Regions from separate parts of the Homo sapiens genome. Here region 1 is linked to region 2. Evidence: fine-mapped expression QTL. A gene starts in region 2. The other region holds a variant in brackets. All regions are shown on one strand. Distances are between the middles of the regions.

Region 1 (9,546 bases), 91 kb after region 2:
ACCACCACACATTGGAGGGAAGCCTCCAAGAAAAGAGATCAAAACAATAGAAAAAAGGAATTGATAGGACCAGTCAAAATCAGGAGCAAAACTTTAAAAAAAAATCTTAAAACACTCTCAAAAAATATAAAATTCAATAGAAATAGTAGAGGATAAAGTCACAGAATATCCCAGAACTAGAATAAAAAGACAAACTGAAAAAAATACAAGGGGAAAAATTAAAAATCAATGCAGGCATATTGGTCTAAGCAGCCTAGCATCTGAATAACAAGACTATCAGTAAAAAAGTAACAGAGAAAATAAAAAAAAATTCTCAAGAAGAGATAGTCTGCAGGTTTAGTAGCCTCAATAAAATGAAAAGATCCCCAACAAGCTGTTATAAAATTTCAGAACCTTAGAGAGAGAGATTCTAAAAAGCTTCCACAGATAACTAAAACCTGGTTGTAAATAACGTATCACACACTGGCAATAGATTCAAGAACAACACTGTAATAAGAGCACAACTGCAAAATGTCTTCAGAACCACAACATTTAGATTCAACCTAGAGGTGTACTCTCTATCAAAGAGGAGGGATTTTAACATCTCCACACAGGAAAATGTGTTCAAGTACAACTAGAGACGATAACAGGACAGAAGGAAACACAGAATCTAGGACTCAGGTGATCCCACACAAGACAGCAGTTACGTGAGATACCAAAAGACTTTAAAGAGTTAGCCCAGAAAAGCAGACATTGAGCATATCTAGGGAAACCCACGCTATATTGAACTAGGATGACAAAAGGCCAAAGAAAGTTGCCCCCCACACAAACATAAAAAGGAACAGATGTGTTTTCGCAGATGGAAAATATCTTTGAAAGGCATGTGATAAATGCTACAATACTTGGGGGAAAACAGCTGTTAGAAAACAGGCAAATGAATATAGTCAGAAAATTAGCTTCATGCTAAAAAATAATGGATGTGAAAGCAAACAGAGCACCCAGAGGCTACTTAACGATATTTGGATAGATAAACTAATGTAGGCTAGGAAAAAAGAAGATCCAGGAGAATTGCAGAAGTGCTCAGATTTCAGAACTGTTTCAGAGACAGGATGAAGGACATGGAATGCAGAGGCACAGTGAAAACACCATATGACTTAGCAGTGAATAATATTTGCAGAGTCATAATCATGTAAATATTACTGATTTAATTAAAAAGTGTGCTACAATTGGAAGAAACACAGGGAGAAACATAAGATCATGGTGTAGCGGGGAAGGTATGCTTTTACCTGCTGTGACAGAAAGTCAATAGACAGTGCTGGCAATTAACTTAGCTATTCTATTTTTGTTCTTTCATTAAAAATAAGATTAAATATTTAAGGCAATTTTTTTTTTTTTTTTTTTTGAGACAGAGTTTCGCTCTGTCGCCCAGGCTGGAGTGCAATGGTGCGATCTTGGCTCACTGCAACCTCCGCCTCCTGGGTTCAAGTGATTCTCCTGCCTCAGCCTCCTGAGTAGCTGAGATTACAGGCATGCACCACCACGCCCAGCTACTTTTGTATTTTTAGTAGATACAGAATTTCACCATGTTGGTCAGGGTTGTCTCAAACTCCTGACCTCAGATGATCAGCCTGCCTCGGCCTCCTAAAGTGTTGTGATTACAGACGTTAACCACCATGCCCAGCCTTAAGGCAGGTCTTTTGAACCGGACTATTGAAATTTAACTTAAATGTCAGAAATCTTTAAAAGGTGGACACGCTAAACTAAGCACTTTTCTGGATAAATTTAATACTCAGGAAAATAGAAGAGATTTAGAAAATCCACAAAAAGAGGTCCATGCTACCACCACCAGGTCCACATTGTAATTTAAAGAAATCAAGAGAGACATCCTTTTATGTCAAACTATCAATTTCTTAACTATTTGAGTGTTTACTTACATGGTTTGTACAGTTGCTTCTTCTTATTTCTACAACTAAGAATAAAAAAAAAAAAAAACTGGTCACTTCTGATACAAATACCATAAAATAAAAGTAGTTGTTAACATCTTACTGATTACTCCTATGAAAAATGAGACAAAATTCCATTAAAAAAAAATTTTCAATAACATATAATTTAAATTATCTGGCATGATTAATTTCATAAGTCAAATCTAAAAACTTAGATTTTCATTTAGTTTACTTTTTGTTTCTATTACATACAAATGAAAGAATCCTCATGTACAAAAGAAAAGGGCAAAAAAATTAGGCCAGATGAAAAATTTAGCTAATAAAAAGTTTAACTGTTGCATATATGAGCCATGATCCATTAGTATTCTCTCATTCTGCATTTACACATAGCTTACTTTAATTATCAGACTCTAAGAGCTAACAGTTCTAAAAACTACTTCCTGACCAGACACCTATCTCTAGATGCAACAGAATCCCTGTAAGCATCTTGAACCACACTTAGTGGTTATCTACTAATATGTCACTAAAAACAAAACAAAATTAAAAAATGGTCTTTACACAACTGGAAAGTAACCTATCTTAAATTTGTTTTCTTTTTTGAGATGGAGTCTCACTCTGTCACCTAGGCTCGAGTGCAGTGGCGGGATCTCAGCGCACTGCAACCTCTGCCTCCCAGGTTCAAGAAATTCTTCAGCCTTAGCCTCTGGACTAGCTGGGACCACAGGCACGTGCCACCATGCCTAGCTAATTGTTTTTTGTATTTTTAGTAGAGACAGAGTTACACTGTGTTAGCCAGGATGGTCTTGATCTCCTAACCTCGTGATCCACCCACCTCAACCTCCCAAAGAGTTGGGATTACAGGTGTAAGCCACAGAGCCTGGCCTAAATTTTGATGTTAAAATAAGTATACAAACCTAATTGGACATGGTGTCTGCAGCACAAAAAAATCATTTTTTTTTCCCTAAAAAGAGGCCAGAATAATAAAAGCCCCAAGAGGGACTTGGGCCATGCTTTGTTTCCTACACTGCCTCTGCCTTTGATGCTGGGAGGGCCTTGTAGGCAAAAGTTACTACCACTGAAGAGTGAGGGACATGGAATAGCTTTTCTTTTACTGCTTCCATGCTCTCTAGGTGTGAGAAGCCCATGGCTCTGGAAGGAACTGGGAAATACAATTCTGATATGTTTTGGATATGTTGCCCCTCCAAGTCTCATGTTAACATGTGACCCTTAATGTTGGAGATAGGGCCTAGTGGGAGGCGTTTGGGTAATGGCAGTGATTCCTTATGAATGGCTTGGTCCCATCCCCATGGTAATAAGCACATTCTCATTACGGTAATTTAAAAGACTGTGGTACTGGCCAGGTGCGGTGGCTGAAGCCTGTAATCCCAGCACTTTGGGAGGCTGAAGCGGGTAGATCACTTGAGGTCAGGAGTTTCAGACCAGCCTGGCCAACATGGTGAAACCCTGTCTCTGCCAAAAATACAGAAATTAGCCAGGTGTTATGGTGCCCACCTATAGTCCCAACTACTCGGGAGGCTGAGGCAGGAGAATTGCTTGAACCTGGGAGATGGAGGTTGTAGTGAGCCAAGATCGTGCCATTGCACTCCAGCCTGGGCAACAGAGTGAGACTCCATTTCAAAAAAAAAAAAAAAAAGAGTGTGGTACCTTCCCCCTTCCCCTCTCTCTTTCACCGTGTGGAACCACCTGCTTCCCCTTTGCCTTTTATCATGATTGTAAGTTTGCTGAGGCCCTCACCAGAAGCAGATGTTAAAGCCATGTTGGTACAGCCTGAAAATCTTTGAGCCAATTAAACCTCTTTTTGTTATAAATCACCCAGCCTTAGGTATCTCTTTATAGTAATGTAAAAAATGAAGACAAATTCTAACCAGAAATAACTGACTCAAGATGGGCAAAGTCTACTCAAACTATAAAAACAAAGGTTACAAACTCCCGTGTTTTACTGTGCTGCATTACTTCGCACACTATTATAGAACCCTCACTTGTATTCTTGCTGTTTAAGTCAACTGGAAAACTTGGCTGTGTATGGCTTGTTGGCAAATAAATAAGGATTTAACATAACATTAAGGGAAATAAGCAGGAGTAGGGCACGTTTAAATTTACATTACATCGAATGAAAAAGTTAATAACCTAAAACTTTTGAGTAGCATGAACTTGGATGTGGTAAATGAATGTGGTCAGAGGACTGTGTAAGAGGAGGCCCAAATCACAGATTCAATCCCTGATGATAAACAACTATGTTTTTTAAGTTGTTTAAATGAAAACCAAGCTGAAGCCTAAGTTCTATCATTCATCTTTAAAGTGTACTTTTTGGAGCAAGGGAAAAGGGATTATAAATAAAGATAAATCCATTAATTATAAATAAAGATAAATCCAAGAATTATAAAGAGAAATCCATGACTCCTCCATCACATCACAAATTAATTGTGTTGATAAAAAGATGGCAAAATGT[A/G]TAAACAAAAAGGTTACACATTTTCACTAACATCATAACAACTAAAGGAAAGTATATCACATATTCAAATGAGACAAGTGAACATGTGAAAAGGTGAAAAATTTAAACCAATATGAGTTTTTCTAAATACTTTCTATAACCTGATCAAACAAGAGATTTTATTCTTTCTCTTGGCGGAAAAAACAATGTCGTCTCACCATCTGTTTGAGAGTTCCTCTGGAATATTGTGCTTGCCTCTGGATTGGCAGAAGGGTTAAACTCCAAAGCTATATGCATAGAGGAAGAAAAGAAAAAAAGATGTAATCATTGATAAAAATTTATCAACTCATTTATTCGACTGCTGCATTTAGGCTATTTCACTATCTCTACTTTGATTCTTATCCATTGAAATGAATGTATAGACATAAGATAGAGCCAGGCAAGATGGCACATGCTTGTAGTCCCAGCTACTCAGGAGGCTGAGATGGGAAAATCACTTGAACCCAGGTCAGGAAGTTGAGGCCAGCATGAGTAACACAATGACACCCTCCTTTATTTAAAAAAAAAAAAAAAAAAAGAGGTAAATTTTGGCTTTGAGTTGTGTAAAATCAACTTTGCATAAAATAAATCAAGATAGCAGTAAGTTTTAAAAGACAGTCTATTTTATAGGCAAAATATAAGATGTATTCTAGAGTTTTTAAAATTTTTAAAAAGTAAATTCATCATATCTGTCACTTCCATTTCATTCTGAGGACACAGAACCTTAGTTCTCTTGAGTAGCTGTCTTCCATAGTCATGTGATATCTCTAAGTTTTCATTTCTTCATTAGCAATACATAGGGAGAACATACACAGGCCTTATTTGTATTGGAAAGGGCCAAGTGAGACATACATAAACTGTGTTGTAATCCTAAAGAATGACAATAAAGAGCCATTTTTGGGCTCTCATCCAACACTACCCATCTACTAACTGGTGTGTAACATCCATCAGGCTTTCCGAACATCACCAAGCAGAGTATAAGTTTACACAAGTACTTACATGCTTTGTGTATAAAGGTACAATCAATTAATTCACATAATGCATTTGTTTATTCTAAAGCAATCCTTAAATATCTTGAAATGTGAAGATAGTACTTCCAAGTTACAAAGTCACACTCATAATGAGTCTTAATTATCCTACCTCTTTAAAAATTAAGAGCCCGACCAAAGTTTAAATAGAAGAGCTATAAGACATTTCCTCTACAGTGATGAAATCTCTGGCATTTAAATGAAACCAATAAGCCAACTGGATTTAATATGTTTATGATGCAATGTTTTCTATTTTGAAAATTTCAGTTTTTATTCAAGAACCATATTATTACCCAGAATTACTTTTACTTAGATTCATCTCTTTGCAAAATTTTAGAGGCAAACCAACTAATTGTTTTCTCTTTTCTACCGGCTCCCATCCCCTGCCTCTGCCAGCAGTGTAGAGACTAAAAAACTCCAACTTTCTTTCCTTTTTTTTTTTGTGAGACGGAGTCTCGCTCTGTCACCCAGGCTGGAGTGCATTGGCGTGATCTCTGCTCACTGCAACCTCCACCTCCTAGGTCCAAGCAATTCTCCTGCCTCGGCCTTGTGAGTAGCTGGAACTACAGTCATGCGCCACTACGCCCAGCTAATTTTTGTATTTTCTTTTTTAGTAGAGACAGTGTTTCACTATGTTGGCCAGGCTGGTCTCGAACTCCTGACCTCAGGTGATCCGCCTGCCACGGCCTCCCAAAGTGCTGGGATTACAGGCGTGAGCCACCAAGCCCAGCCAAAACTGTAACTTTCTTATCTTTGAACAAGATGCTATTGTCAGGAGGGGAAGGGACAAAGGGGGAGCCATGGCAACAAACACTCTAACAGGGAAGGTCTGACATTTTAACCTGCAATCTTTATATTACACATTAAAAGTCTACGTTGACGTTTCATGTCTTTTGAAAGTTTTGACCATGAACCAATCCCCACCTCTCTTTTAGAACAAGGAGGTAAATAAAGTCTGTTAAGTCACCAGAATAAATCTGGAGACACATTTTCTGTTAAAGTAAGAATTTTAAAGTAATCAGAGCCTCATAGGTAAACTCCTTTGAGAAACCCCAAACACACACACACAACCATTTTTCTGCAGCCCCGGCTGTGACATTTCACACCTTTCACAATTATTTTAAGCATTCTCCTTTTTTCTTTTTCCTTCTGTGTTCAAATTACAGTTAGAAGAAACTAAGCAGCTTCTATCAAGGTGACTTAAAGCAGCCCATTAAGAATACCATATAGCCTCTCCCGTGGCAACCTCCATTCTGATTTTAAATAAGAAATCCCCAAATATTTGAATAGGAACTGTCCTGAGATTTGGCTACTTTAACAAAGGAAACAATTAGGCACTTACCTGGTTCCTTCACTTAGGTACCATCTGGATAGGTACAAAGAAAAAATAAGATGGGTACTGAAAAGTTGGGATATTTGAGTTTTTATTGAGAAAAGGAAGAGAATAGCTCAAAGAAGCCTAAACAAAGTCCCACAGGATAATAAACAGAGCTACAGACACTGTTGTCTCACCATCTGTTTGAGAGTTCCTCTGGAATATTGTGCTTGCCTCTGGATTGGCAGAAAGGTTAAACTCCAAAGCTATATGTATAGAGGGAGAAAAGAAAAAAGATGTAATCATTTATAAAAATGTATCAACTCATTTATTCAACTGCTGCTTATTCGACAAGAGCCATAAATAAATGGCCCCATGCCAGCCTGGGAGAATGAGATGAGAGAGCAAGAACTGGGCGATTGGGAGGGGAGGCGAAAAGAAACTGACTGGACTCGGTGGGGAAAGACTAAGGGGTGGGAATTCAAGGCAGAGCCAGTTTTGTTCCTGGCCAGCCCCCGGGAAAGCTGGCTACAAGCAGAAAGGAGCTCGAAGTGGGGGATGCCTCAAAGGGAACCTTGGGGACAGCAGCAGCCAAAGGCAAACCGAGGGTAGATGGCACCTATCACCTCCTCACCTTCAGGCATCTCCCGGTCACGAACCTGGTGCATGTGGAGGTCCTCACCAACTTCAACAGTCACCTCAGCAGGCTGTACAGCAGCAGCCATGGGCGCTCCTGCCATCCTGTCCTCAGCTCCTGCCTCATAGATCTCAGATTCAGAGGGACACACCGACCCCTGCTGCTGGTCAAACTCGAGGCTGACGCTAGGGTGCACACGACAGGTCAGTATGTTCCCCATGGGGCGCCTCTACTGTCTGCCACCACCTGTGCCTCTGCTCACAGCTTTGGCCACGCACTCCCGCTGTCCTAGGCCGAGGCTATGCTGCACTTGCAGAGATGGTCTTCCCGCTCCTCGCCTGCCCACCTCACAGCGCGGCCCCGGGCACCAGCCCTGGCCCCGGCCCCGGCCCCGGCCCCGGCTAGGGTTGCGGGCCAAGGCCCGCACCCTGCTGCCTCCCCTGAGTTGACTTGTCTGGGAGGGTGAAGACCAGCCGGCTTATTTAATAGGTTGTGAACCCAACAAGCGCTGAGAGACACAACAACTGCCTGAAGAGAGAACAGACGGAGCTCCTTCTCCTTCTGTAGTCACCTACAGACTGAAGCCCACTGGCCCCAGGTGGGAGCCCAGGCATGTGGCACACAATGCCCCACCCCCCACTTCACAATGCCCTCCCCGACACCTCACAGTGCCCCACCCTGCCTGCCACCCCTCCCCAACAGCTCAGAATGCCCCTGCCTTGGCTGCCCCACCCTGTGGCTTATGATGCTGCTGCTCTCCTGGCCCCTCGTGCAGTGCCAGTGGGACTAAGGTTTTCATTCATCACCAGCTTCCTGAGATTTTAGTCCTAAGAAAAGCACAGGGTAGTTCATTCCTTGAAGCCAGCTTCCTCTATGAGTTCTATACAAAGCCTCAGTAGAGTGGGTCCCATTAGCAACCAAGTTGAACAACTTTTATTTGCTGTCTGAATATAGATACACCTGAATTGTTGACTGCTTTTGTAACTAAACACTCCTCTCCTGTCTTCCAACGAGTGGTCATTTTTGTCCGCAACTTGACCACAGCAATCCCTGGGGCCCTAGCTCTACTCTCAATAAAGAGTTATGGCTGTGTGTTTTGAATGACACCTTAGGACCCATCCTGCCTCCACCTCCTTCTCCATAAAATAGAAACCTAACTGGCACCTCCAAGCTCTGAAATGCTGAAACTTACCAACTCCCTTTTCTCCCCGCTATTTCTTCCTTCCATGGCAGGGACTTTCAGGTTTTCTTTCTTTTACTAACAAGGCACTAAGCATGATTTTCTCATACAAAATCGAGAGCCATAAAGTGGCTTACCACAGTCCTATTTCAATAAAGATGAATACTCGACATCTGGCAAGTAGTGTGTGCCTGACAGTGTCCCCACTGTGCTATGCTCATTTAACCCTCAGAAACAATCTCATGTTACAGATTTTACAGAAGTTGTTGAGATGGAGAAGGTAAGTAACCTCCCCAAGGTCACATGACTGCTAAGGGTGGGGCCATAGTTTGATCCCAGGTAGTCTGAATTCCCCAATTGCTTAAGCATGAGTATCAGAAAGTATAGCAGTCTGTTTTCACACTGATATAAAGAAACACCTGAGGTTGGGTAATTTTTAAAGGAAAGAGGTTTAATTGACTCAGTTTCACATGGCTGGGGAGGCCTCAGGAAACTTAACAATCATGGCAGAGGGGGAAGTCCTTCAGGAAACTTACAATCATGGCAGAAGGGCAGGTCCGACTTACATGGTGGCCGCACAGAGAGTGGGAACATGTGAAGGAGCAACTGTCAAACATGTATAAAACCATCAGATCTCAGCTGGGCACGGTGGCTCACACTTGTAACCCTAGTACTTTGGGAGGCCAAGGCAGGTGGATCAACTGAGGTCAGGAGTTTGAGACCAGCCTAGCTAATGTAGTGAAATCCTGTCTCTACTAAAAATACAAAAATTAGCTGGGTGTGGTGGTGCATGCCTGTAATCCCAGCTACTCAGGAGGCTGAGGCAGGAGAATCAATGGAACTCAAGAGGCAGAGACTGCAGTGAGCCAAGATCATGCCATGGCACTCCTGCCTGGACAACAGAGCAAGACTCCATCCCAAAAAACAAAACAAAACCCTATAAGATCTCATGAGGACTTACTGAATATCACAAGAA
Region 2 (9,546 bases):
AGACCTTGGAAATGTACACAACTGAGTGTGCAAGCTACTTAACCTCCCTTAGCCTCAAAATTCTCATCTACAACATGGGAAATATATGTACCTCCCAGAGTTGCTGAAATATTGAGATTCTATATAAGGCTCTCAGGAAATGTAAATTCTCATCCCCAAGGGAAACTTGATCAAATCTTCATAGCTTAGGGTAAGAAATGCTAATTCTACCAGCAATTCACATTTTTCATTGTTAGCTGATTATTTTATTGAACATTTACATTGAGGAAATTCAGAAATGCTCATTTTTCCACTTTCCTGGTGGTAAGATGCTGCCTGAAGCTATGTTTAAATTTTCAAGAGTAAATAAACTATGGCGGGAAATCTAGCTGACTATGCCAGTGAATCTCAAACCTAGCTGTACATTAGAATCATCTCAGAAATTTTTTTAAAGAAACACACGTATGTCCAGAACTCACCAGGCCAAATTAAATCAGAATCCCTGGGGTGGCTCCAGAATATCAGTATTTTTTAAAAAAGCTGATAGAAAGGTAATTGTAAAACACAGTCAGGGCTTAAAAGCACTGATTTGTACTAACGATATGCCATGCTAACTGCACATCACAGTCACTTGGGGAGCTCTTAAAAAAGTTGATTGATTCCAGAACCCTACCGAGACTTACTGATTCAGAATCTGTGGAAGTGGAGCCTGTCATTGTGCAAATCTTCATAAAACTCCCCACTGGTGATTCTGATGCAAACTCACTGAGAACCACTACTTTGTATCATACATTTACTCTACGTGTTGTATATCAGAAAGATCATTTAAAACTTTCAGTGGTCTCAAATGCCAAGCCTGCCAGTTACTTTTAATCAGTAACTGACACAACACATCACAGTAACTCCAATGACTTTACAGATCTTTTCAGAACACTTTTATGTCCAGCCCACTGACCCACATCACCTACCCTATGCTGTGCCAAATACTGGCTATGTAGTCCGTTGGTATTTCTAACCAAATTCCTCTAAATGGGCTGCTGATCTGGGAAAAGCAACATGGAATCACATTACTCCCCAAGCCTTATTCCCCTTTGCTAAGTGGTATGTAATGCCAGGATTAATGAAATGAACTCTATTGGTCAAATGAGTCTGAATGAAATCTGAGTTGTTGTCTGCTCCTGGAAGCAAACTGTTATCTATTTGTTTCCCTCAGAGAGATAAACTCAGAGGAAACAGGAGTGATCCCTGAGGTGGGAATAATATAGTGGGCTGCAATTTTAAAACTCTGCTTAGACAATAACAGGACACTTGGAATCTTATTTTGATAGATCAAACCAATCAGTATATACAGCACCATGGTGGTACTACCAGGCAGGTGATAATAGTAGCATTTAAACAACCAGGCACTATATTAGGCATATTAAATATATTAACTCATGTGATTCTCAACTGCGATGATAATAGCCCTATCAGGCAGGTACTATTATTATTTCCATTTTGTCAAAAAAGAAACAAAGGCACACAGAAGTTAGATGATTTACCCAAAGTCCCATAGCTACTAAGTGGCAGTTTTCTGAAACCAGGCAATCTGGCTTTGGAGTCCAACATCTTAAGTACTCCACTGCAATGCAGATGAGTGATGGCCAAGCAGTTTAAAAAAAAAGAAAAAGTTATTGTCTGCAGTAGAAACTGGAGGTCAGGGTATGGGTACCTTGGGCAAATTACTTAACCTCTTGGAGCCTATTTTTGCATCTGAAAAATCAGGATAATAATTGTACCTGCCTTGTAGAGCTGAGGTGATGATTAAACAAGATTAGGCATGTGATGTGCTTAGAAAAGTACTTGGCACTTTTAAGAGCTTTCTGTCAGCCATTATTATTATTTGTATTTTAAAACAGCTCAAGTGGTCAGGGAGAAATGAAAATCTATTAAACTGAAAATTTTCCTGCCAATCTTAGATTTGTAGATTCTGTAGATTACCAGTACATCAGATCCAATATGAAATGCAGTCATAAAAGATTTTCACAAAAACTTAAGGACTGTCACTGTGACAAACCCCAGCCCAAACAGTCCAGGACAATGGCTCTAAAAAGCAAACATCTTCAATTATCAAGCTGTGTACATGTAAACACAACAGGAACCAGACTTCTGAGTAGCTGCAAACTGCAGTTCTCTGTGATGGGAGAACATGCCCCAGAACAGCCTGTCAAGTGGTAATTGCCAGCCATCCTCAGTCACATATGTATAAACAGAAAAGAAAAACAAAACGAGGGCTCAAATAAAAAGCGTTAACATTCATTAAACGCCTGACACTCTATTAAATGTTTTTCATGCATTACCTTCTTTAATCCTCACAACACCCTTCCAAAGTTGAACATGAAACAACCACACTGGTTTATATCACTTTAAATGTAAGACTACACGTCTCAAATGGGCCCTGAGCACTGCCTGGGAATCCAACTCTATTTCTCTAGTACGCTCACTTTCACCCTCTCTAGGACTCTGTCACATATCTCTCCTCCAAGTTCCCACACCTTTCCTCTCCCCCGCTGCCCTCCCTCTAAGCTGATGGATGCCTATACCAATAGACTCTTTTCCCACCACCCACTGTATCTGCACCTGTTATCTCAGCTTCCCCTCTAGTTACAACAGAGTAAGTGTCCCTGCTCATTTCAAAACCAACTACTCACCTGCTTAGGGTCTTCTCCTTTCTCAGGTATTCAACAACTACCCTTTACAATGTTCCCCTCTTTCATCTGCAGCAGTTTTTCCTTTCTACGAGTTTAATCACATTGCCATATAAACATTCTGCTTTCTTCTATCTTGAAAAAAACTCTACCCAACCTTAAGGCCCCTCTTCCCCATTAAAGTTGTTCTTGTCAAAATGATTAAAATCCTCCTAATTACCAAAGTCATCTTATACGGTAACATTCAACATGGTTGACCACTACCTCCCTCCCTTTTTTGGCTTCGCCTCCTCTTCTTTGTGTACACTATTAAACTAGATGTCTTCACCAGTCCCATATATTTTAAATACTATGTACAGTATATGATGCCGATTCCAAAGGTTAACTCTAGCCCGACATCCTCCAGAACTTCAGATTTAAATTTCTAAAAAGCACATTTGATATCTCAACCCAAATATCTACTAGATAATTTATGTGTGTATATTTCACCATACTAAAAAAAACTACCAGGTGACTGATAAATGGAGAGAAGGTGAATAGGTAATGTGAAAAATCAAATGTGCTAAATATTCATGGCACCTGTAGGTGGTAGGTGGTCAGAGTCCTCTGCAAAATTCTTCCCAGCTATGCTTATGTCTTCTATTGGGAAAAACCTACTGGGCATCTCAAACCTAACACATTCAAAACATAAGTACTGATTCCACAACTTCCAAAAATGAAACCTACCCCATCCTACAGTTTTCCTTGAGTCAAGGCTAGCATATGAGGGCCTTGGCATATGGGGGCATTGCCTATCGCGTTCATAGATATTCTGAGCTTCTAGAACAGCATCTGGCACACAGGAGGCGTTCAAAATAGCTGCTGAATGGATTGATGAATTCATGTTCTTTCTTTCTAGGTCCCTCGACCTCCACCCGCCCTTGAGTCATTGGGAAGTTCTGGGCTGTCTCAGCGCCTGATGATGGCTTCTTACCAATCATACCACACGGCTGCTCCTCAGGGAGTTGGTGGCATTCCCCTACCACAGAGCCACAGGGTTCCTGTCCCGGTCCCGTCTCGCATAGGCGCCCCAACACGCGTCACAGTGCAGCTGGCATCACACGGCCAGAATCACGTCCTGCCCTCTGGCTGCAGCGACACTACTTCACAGCTCAGGCCCACCCGGGCAGTCTCCCGGGCCAGGGCCACAACCCACGCCTTGTGACCCCTGCACGTCAACGGCATCTTCCTTCTTCACGCCCGCCCTCCCACAGCCCGGCGCAGCGGCCTCCCGCACGCCCCCTGCCCACCTGGCCCCCAGCCACCTTTCCTCACCTGGGCCTGCGGGGCCGCCCCAACTGTCCCGCTGCAACCCCAGCAGCCTCGCCAGTTGGGTCCACGCCTAGCCTGCCGGCCTTCGTCGCTATCCAATCCCACCTGCGCCCGCGAGCCTGCGCACTGGAGCTTTGCCCTGCGCCGCGGCACTCTGCCCTGCGCCGCGGCCCTCTGCTTGCCAGGCCGGGAGAGACAGAACCTGCCTCTACCGGTCTTCCAAGGCACTGAGAGCCCATCGCCGCGGACGCCGCTGTAAATTCCCTGCGGGCCCTGTGCACCACCCTGTGCGGGTCCCCCTCTCCCAGGCCAGGCTGATAATGTCAACAGCTCTCTGAGCTATGCTCATATCCTGAACCACTGAGGACTGTGTTCTCCAGGAATGCTCGCCTGACCCACGCCTGCCCTCTAAGCCCCTAATGAGGCCCCAGAGGGCTGGGGTGGGGGGGTCTCTTTGTAGTATCAGAGCAGGGCAGATAGGCAAAAGGAGTCAGAGCCTGTGCCAGAATATGAGGTCAGTTGGCTGCTAGGTCAATTAAGACAACTTCAGCAAGGGTGGTCAATGTAGAGGGAATTCAATCGTTGGCATTGCCTGAAAACAGGAAGCCAGAATCTTTTTATCTTGACGAACAAACCTCTATTCATTGGTCCTGACCTGAGCCACTTTGGTGAATCCAGATACCCTGAAGGTGTGACAAGACCTGCCTCACTTATCCCCCAGCCTTCAGTGCTGGTCCCACAGAGAGCCATATGCTTGAGCTGAACTGCAGTTAAGCAGTGACAGCTACCCTCTGTCCAGGCTCTGAGGCCAGCCTTCTGCTCCGTGAGTCACTGACAGTGAGTCTCTACAGAGACTTTTTCTTTCTGTAGCAGCCAAGGTACCCTGCAAGCAACCCACGCCATTGCCATATGTCTTAGTTTGTTTGTGTTGCTATAAAGCAATACCTGAGGCTGGGTAATTTATAAAGAAAAGAGGTTTGTTAGTTTCACAGTTTCACAGGCTGTAAAAGAAACATGGCACCACCACCCGCTTTTGATGAGGGCCTCAGGAAGCTTCCACTCATGGCAGAAGACAAAGGAGAGCCAATGTGTGCAAGACAGAGGAAGAGAGAGAGGTGGGAGGTGCCAGGCTCTTTTCCATGACCAGTTCTCATGAAAACAAAGACTAAGAACTCACTCAGTTCCATGAGACTAGCACCAAGTCATTCATAAAGGATCTACCCACATGACCCAGACACTTCCCACCAGGCCCCACCTCCAACATTGGGGATCAAATTTCAACACTAGATTTTATTTATTTATTTATTTATTTTGAGATGGAGTCTCGCTCTGTCGCCCAGGCTGGAGTGCAGTGGCGTGATCTCAGCTCACTGTAATCTCCACCTCCCCAGTTCAAGTGATTCTCCTGCCTCAGCCTCCCCAGTAGCTGGGACTACAGGAGCATGCCACCATGCCTGGCTAATTTTTGTATTTTTAGTAGAGACGAGGTTTCACTGTGTTGGCCAGGCTGGTCTTGAACACCTGACCTCAGGTGATCCGCCCGCCTCAGCCTCCCAAAGTGCTGGGATTACAGGCATGAGCCAACGCACCCAGCCCAACATTAGATTTAGATGGGACAAATATCCAAACTATATCACCAGGGTAAGATTCCCCTTTAAAGATGGACCCCATGTCTAATGTTTCTTCATAGTGCCTAACATCAAGATTCTGCACTGGTCATCATTTCACAAACATGAGCAGCATGGCTGCTCCAAGACACACAGAGGGAATAACCCCCATTCACATCACCAGGAAATCCTTGCATGGAGGCTAAATGAACAGTTGGTAAGAGTGGACCCTGAGGTGTCATTCCATCTCCCCCAGACTTCCTGCTTGACCACACAATATTCCCAGAAGCCAGTGACCCAGAAGGCTCTTCTTGGCTTTCTGTCCTTTTACCTGTGAAAAATTCGAAGAACTATAAAGTTTAGGGCCCATCACAGTTTACTACCCTTCTTTGGAGGCCTCTTTAAACCCTTGAGTCTTACCAATTACCAGTAGCACTAGGAGCTTTGCAAGCCTGGCCTTAAGTCCCTGCTTTGCTACTGAATAGTTGGTGACCTTTGGCAGGTTACTTCCCAACTTGTGTCTCAGTTTTCCTTTTTTTAAAAAAGGAGACACAGTTGCAAGTGTTTAATGAGACAAAAAACAGAAGCATTCATCACCACGCCTGGCAGTGAACACTGCTTTTCTTGCTCAAGAGGTTTGAGCCATACGCTTCTCTAGGTCTGTGACTCTCCCAGAGTTTCTGGGAGTTCCTCTGTGAGCAACAGACCCACTGCAGTCTCCATACTTCAGGGGTAAGCCTGGATGCCCTTCACACATCAGTCTGGATGAGTTCATGCACCACTCATCCAAAAGTGAATCCAAAAGTGATTCCAAAAGCAGAGGCCAGAGATCTAGTTGCTAATGTTGCCTCTCCTCATGGTTCTAGGATTCAGCCACACAGGGCTTCCCATTGCAGCTTCAGGTCCTCCTCACTCCCCAGTGCAGGCCCAGTTTCACTCTCAGGTCCTCCAGCCCAGGCCTCAGTTCTGCCTCTTTTAGTCCATCCCTCCAGATCCACTTTCCAACAGGGCTGGGAAGTCGCTTGGTTGTCCCCTGCCTGCTGCACCACAGCCCCCAGACACCGCCTCCTTATTTCCTGCATGGTCCGAGGCTCAATGCTAATCCCTGGGTGTCTTAGTCTGTTTTGTGCTGCTATAACAGAATTCCTGAGCCTGGATAATTTGTAAAGAACAAAACATTTTTTTCTCACAGTTCTGGAGAATGGGAAGTCCAAGATCAGGTGCCAGCATCTGGTGTGAGTCTTCTTGCTGCATCCTCCAGAGGAGAGGAACATTGTGTCCTCATGTGGCAGAAGGCAGAGAGCAAATAGGAAAAAGGAAGGCAAACTCACCCTCTTCTAATAGCATTAATCTCACCCAGAAGGACAGAGTCCTCATGGTCCTTTCACCTCCCGAAGGTCCCACCTCCTAACACTGCCACAGCAGCAACCAAATTTCTTTGAATATTAATACATGAGTGTGGGAGGGGACAAACATTCAAATCATCACACTGGGAAGGCTCAGCTGGAGGAGCAGAATTGGCCAGCACAGGGAGGTAATGCTGGGTTTGGAATTTTTGTCTTTGCAGTCCTTGGCCTTGATCCGGATACCCAGACGCCCTCTGAGATGGACCTTGAGGGCCGTGCCAATGTCTGCTCTCTGCTGAGGTAGGGCTCATCTACTCCTTACAAGTATAAGAACTTACTGCCAAACATACCCTCCTCCAAGCCATGGGTCCCCAGATACAGTCAGGAGGACCCCAGTGGATAGCTGGAACTCAGGACCTCAGGAGAGATCCCAAGGCCTATGCTCGAGTTCAGAGTTTTCTAATTCAGGCTTGGAGCCCAGGAACAGAAGATAACTAAGAACAATACTGACAGAAAAAAATAATCACTTCATTGACATTACCCTTCACAGGACCGCCTGCTTCAGGCCTGTGCTTTGCAGCCTGGTTCATTTGGGAATGGTATGCTTCACACCCAGCCCTGTTAAGTGTGAGTTGATGAGGACCATGAGCTTGGAAGAAGCCGTGGGGGCCTCTCTGTGTGTTTCTCTCTGCCCTGCTTTGAGACACTTCACATAAAAGACTCTATAAAAATAAACTGTGGAGATTTCAATGCCAGTAAAAATCCCAGTGGAGGTAGAAAACTATTTAAAGAGCACAAGGACATACATTTATCTTGTTGTGAATCCCCGGCTGCCTGGTCCCTGAGCCTGACACACGGCAGATGCCCAATAAATATTAATAGATTGATCAATTTGTTGGCTGCTCATCCATTTGCAGCTTCAGCCAGCCCATGGCTCTGCGTGCACACACCACAAGGAGAGAGAATCCATAGACTTCGACAGGAGAGAGCTGCTCAGCTGGCAGGAGAGCCTGCCACAAACCCTTGAACATAAATGTCCTGCCCTCCACTTCCAGCTCTACGTACTAACTGTAAAATAATGATGTGGCAGAAAGTGAAGTGCAAAGACTGCCAAATTCTAAGAAAGAACCTGGTTTCATGCCTTTTAATCCTTATGAGTCATTCCTTGGTCTGCGCCAAGCCCTGTGCTTTACAGCAAGAATACAGATGTCTTCATTGAACTGCATCTCATTAGCTGGACCTAACAGAGTGCAAATTTCTTTCCAATGCCATTTGAACTCAATGCCCAGATGCTTTTTTCCCCTGGGCCCGTGCAGATGAAATCTTGGGCTGGTTTATAACTTTGAACACCCAGAATATTCCCATTTCAGTTTAAGATTCCCTCTGACTTATCTAATTGTTAGGCTCTCTTCACCTTCAGCCTGAGAAATGGGTACCATCAATTTCTCCTTTCTCACCCAGCTTCACACCCAGGCCCTCCAGACTCAGTGGGTGTCTGACACCTCTACAGCTGGAGTCCTTCAGCAATGGGCCCCCTGGGCTCAGCAGATATTTTGAGCTGGCCATTTCTTCTGTGAGACAATCTTGTGTTTTCTCAGGAATTCCCCTGCAGAAGATCTCTGAGTACAAACCCATGCCCAGTGATGTTGCCTCTGCCCAGCTACTTACAAGACCATTCCTCGGCCCATCCAGGGCTACCAATCTGTTTATGTAATTTGTGCCATGAATAAAGGTACCAGACAAATGAGTAAGTGGAGGCTGAGTTGTAGGCATGGTTTTGTGCCCCAATAATGGGCTGCACAGGAAAGGAAGGGCCACCTTTGTGTAATTCATAAGCTACAGGTGGATGCCTTTTTGTGATTCCCCCTAATGCATGCTCTGTGTGAGCTGAGGCTCTGGCTCTCTCTCTGCTGGGGTCAACATCACCCCTGCTTGTTTTACAGGCTATGACCTGCCTGCAGCTTACTTGCCTACATAAAAAGGGCATCCGCGCCCTTGCCCTGACACGGGGATTGGCGGTTCACTCCTAGCGCCATCCTCTTTCTCTTTGCTCTCCCGCCAGACATGTTGTTGCCGTCATCACCTCTCACCATGAGATTGCTCAGGGATGTTCCAGACACCAAGCCCTTTCAGAAGACACATGTCAAACCCTGTATATGATTTGAGCAGTCTTTCTCATGTGGCTGGAGGGAAAGGAGAGGTACCTCATTCCTCTCCCCTCCACAAGGAGGGGAAAGAGGTATGGAAGGGGAAATGTCATAGCATTCCAACAACTCTTTTCAGAGGAATTTTCTACTCCTGGCCTCAATTTTTTATAAACCCTCATGGGTGTGTTAGTGGTGGAAGTTATCTAGGTTATCGGTGGCAAACCTGTATGGGTCTGCAGCAATCTCAACTCTTGCCTCCTCAGAAGAAAGAATCTGAGGTGCATAAGGCAGAAGGAGAGGCCAAGACAAGTGTTAGAGCAGGAGTGAAAGTTCATTAAAAGGCTTTAGAGCAGGAACAAAAGGAAAGAAAGTACACTTGGAAGAGGCCCAGGTGGGCAACTTGAAGGACAAGTGCCCCATTTGACCTTGAACCTAGGATTTCATATGCTGACCGACTTCCAGCATTTTG

Evidence for each region. PIP is the estimated chance that this variant, and not a neighbour inherited with it, causes the effect.
Region 1: its variant is fine-mapped to the expression of PTPN20 in whole blood (TOPMed, PIP 0.90).

The regions. Positions count from the first base shown.
Region 1 is chr10:46,814,580-46,824,125 of GRCh38, reverse strand. It overlaps the pseudogene AGAP13P. Among named protein-coding and RNA genes, the nearest start is that of FAM245B, 79 kb to the right of the region's middle. The variant A/G (reference allele first, on the strand shown) is at 4,393.
Region 2 is chr10:46,905,936-46,915,481 of GRCh38, reverse strand. PTPN20 (protein tyrosine phosphatase non-receptor type 20) reads right to left here and starts at 4,054. Exons shown (of 11, transcript NM_001042357.5): 1 at 3,981-4,054.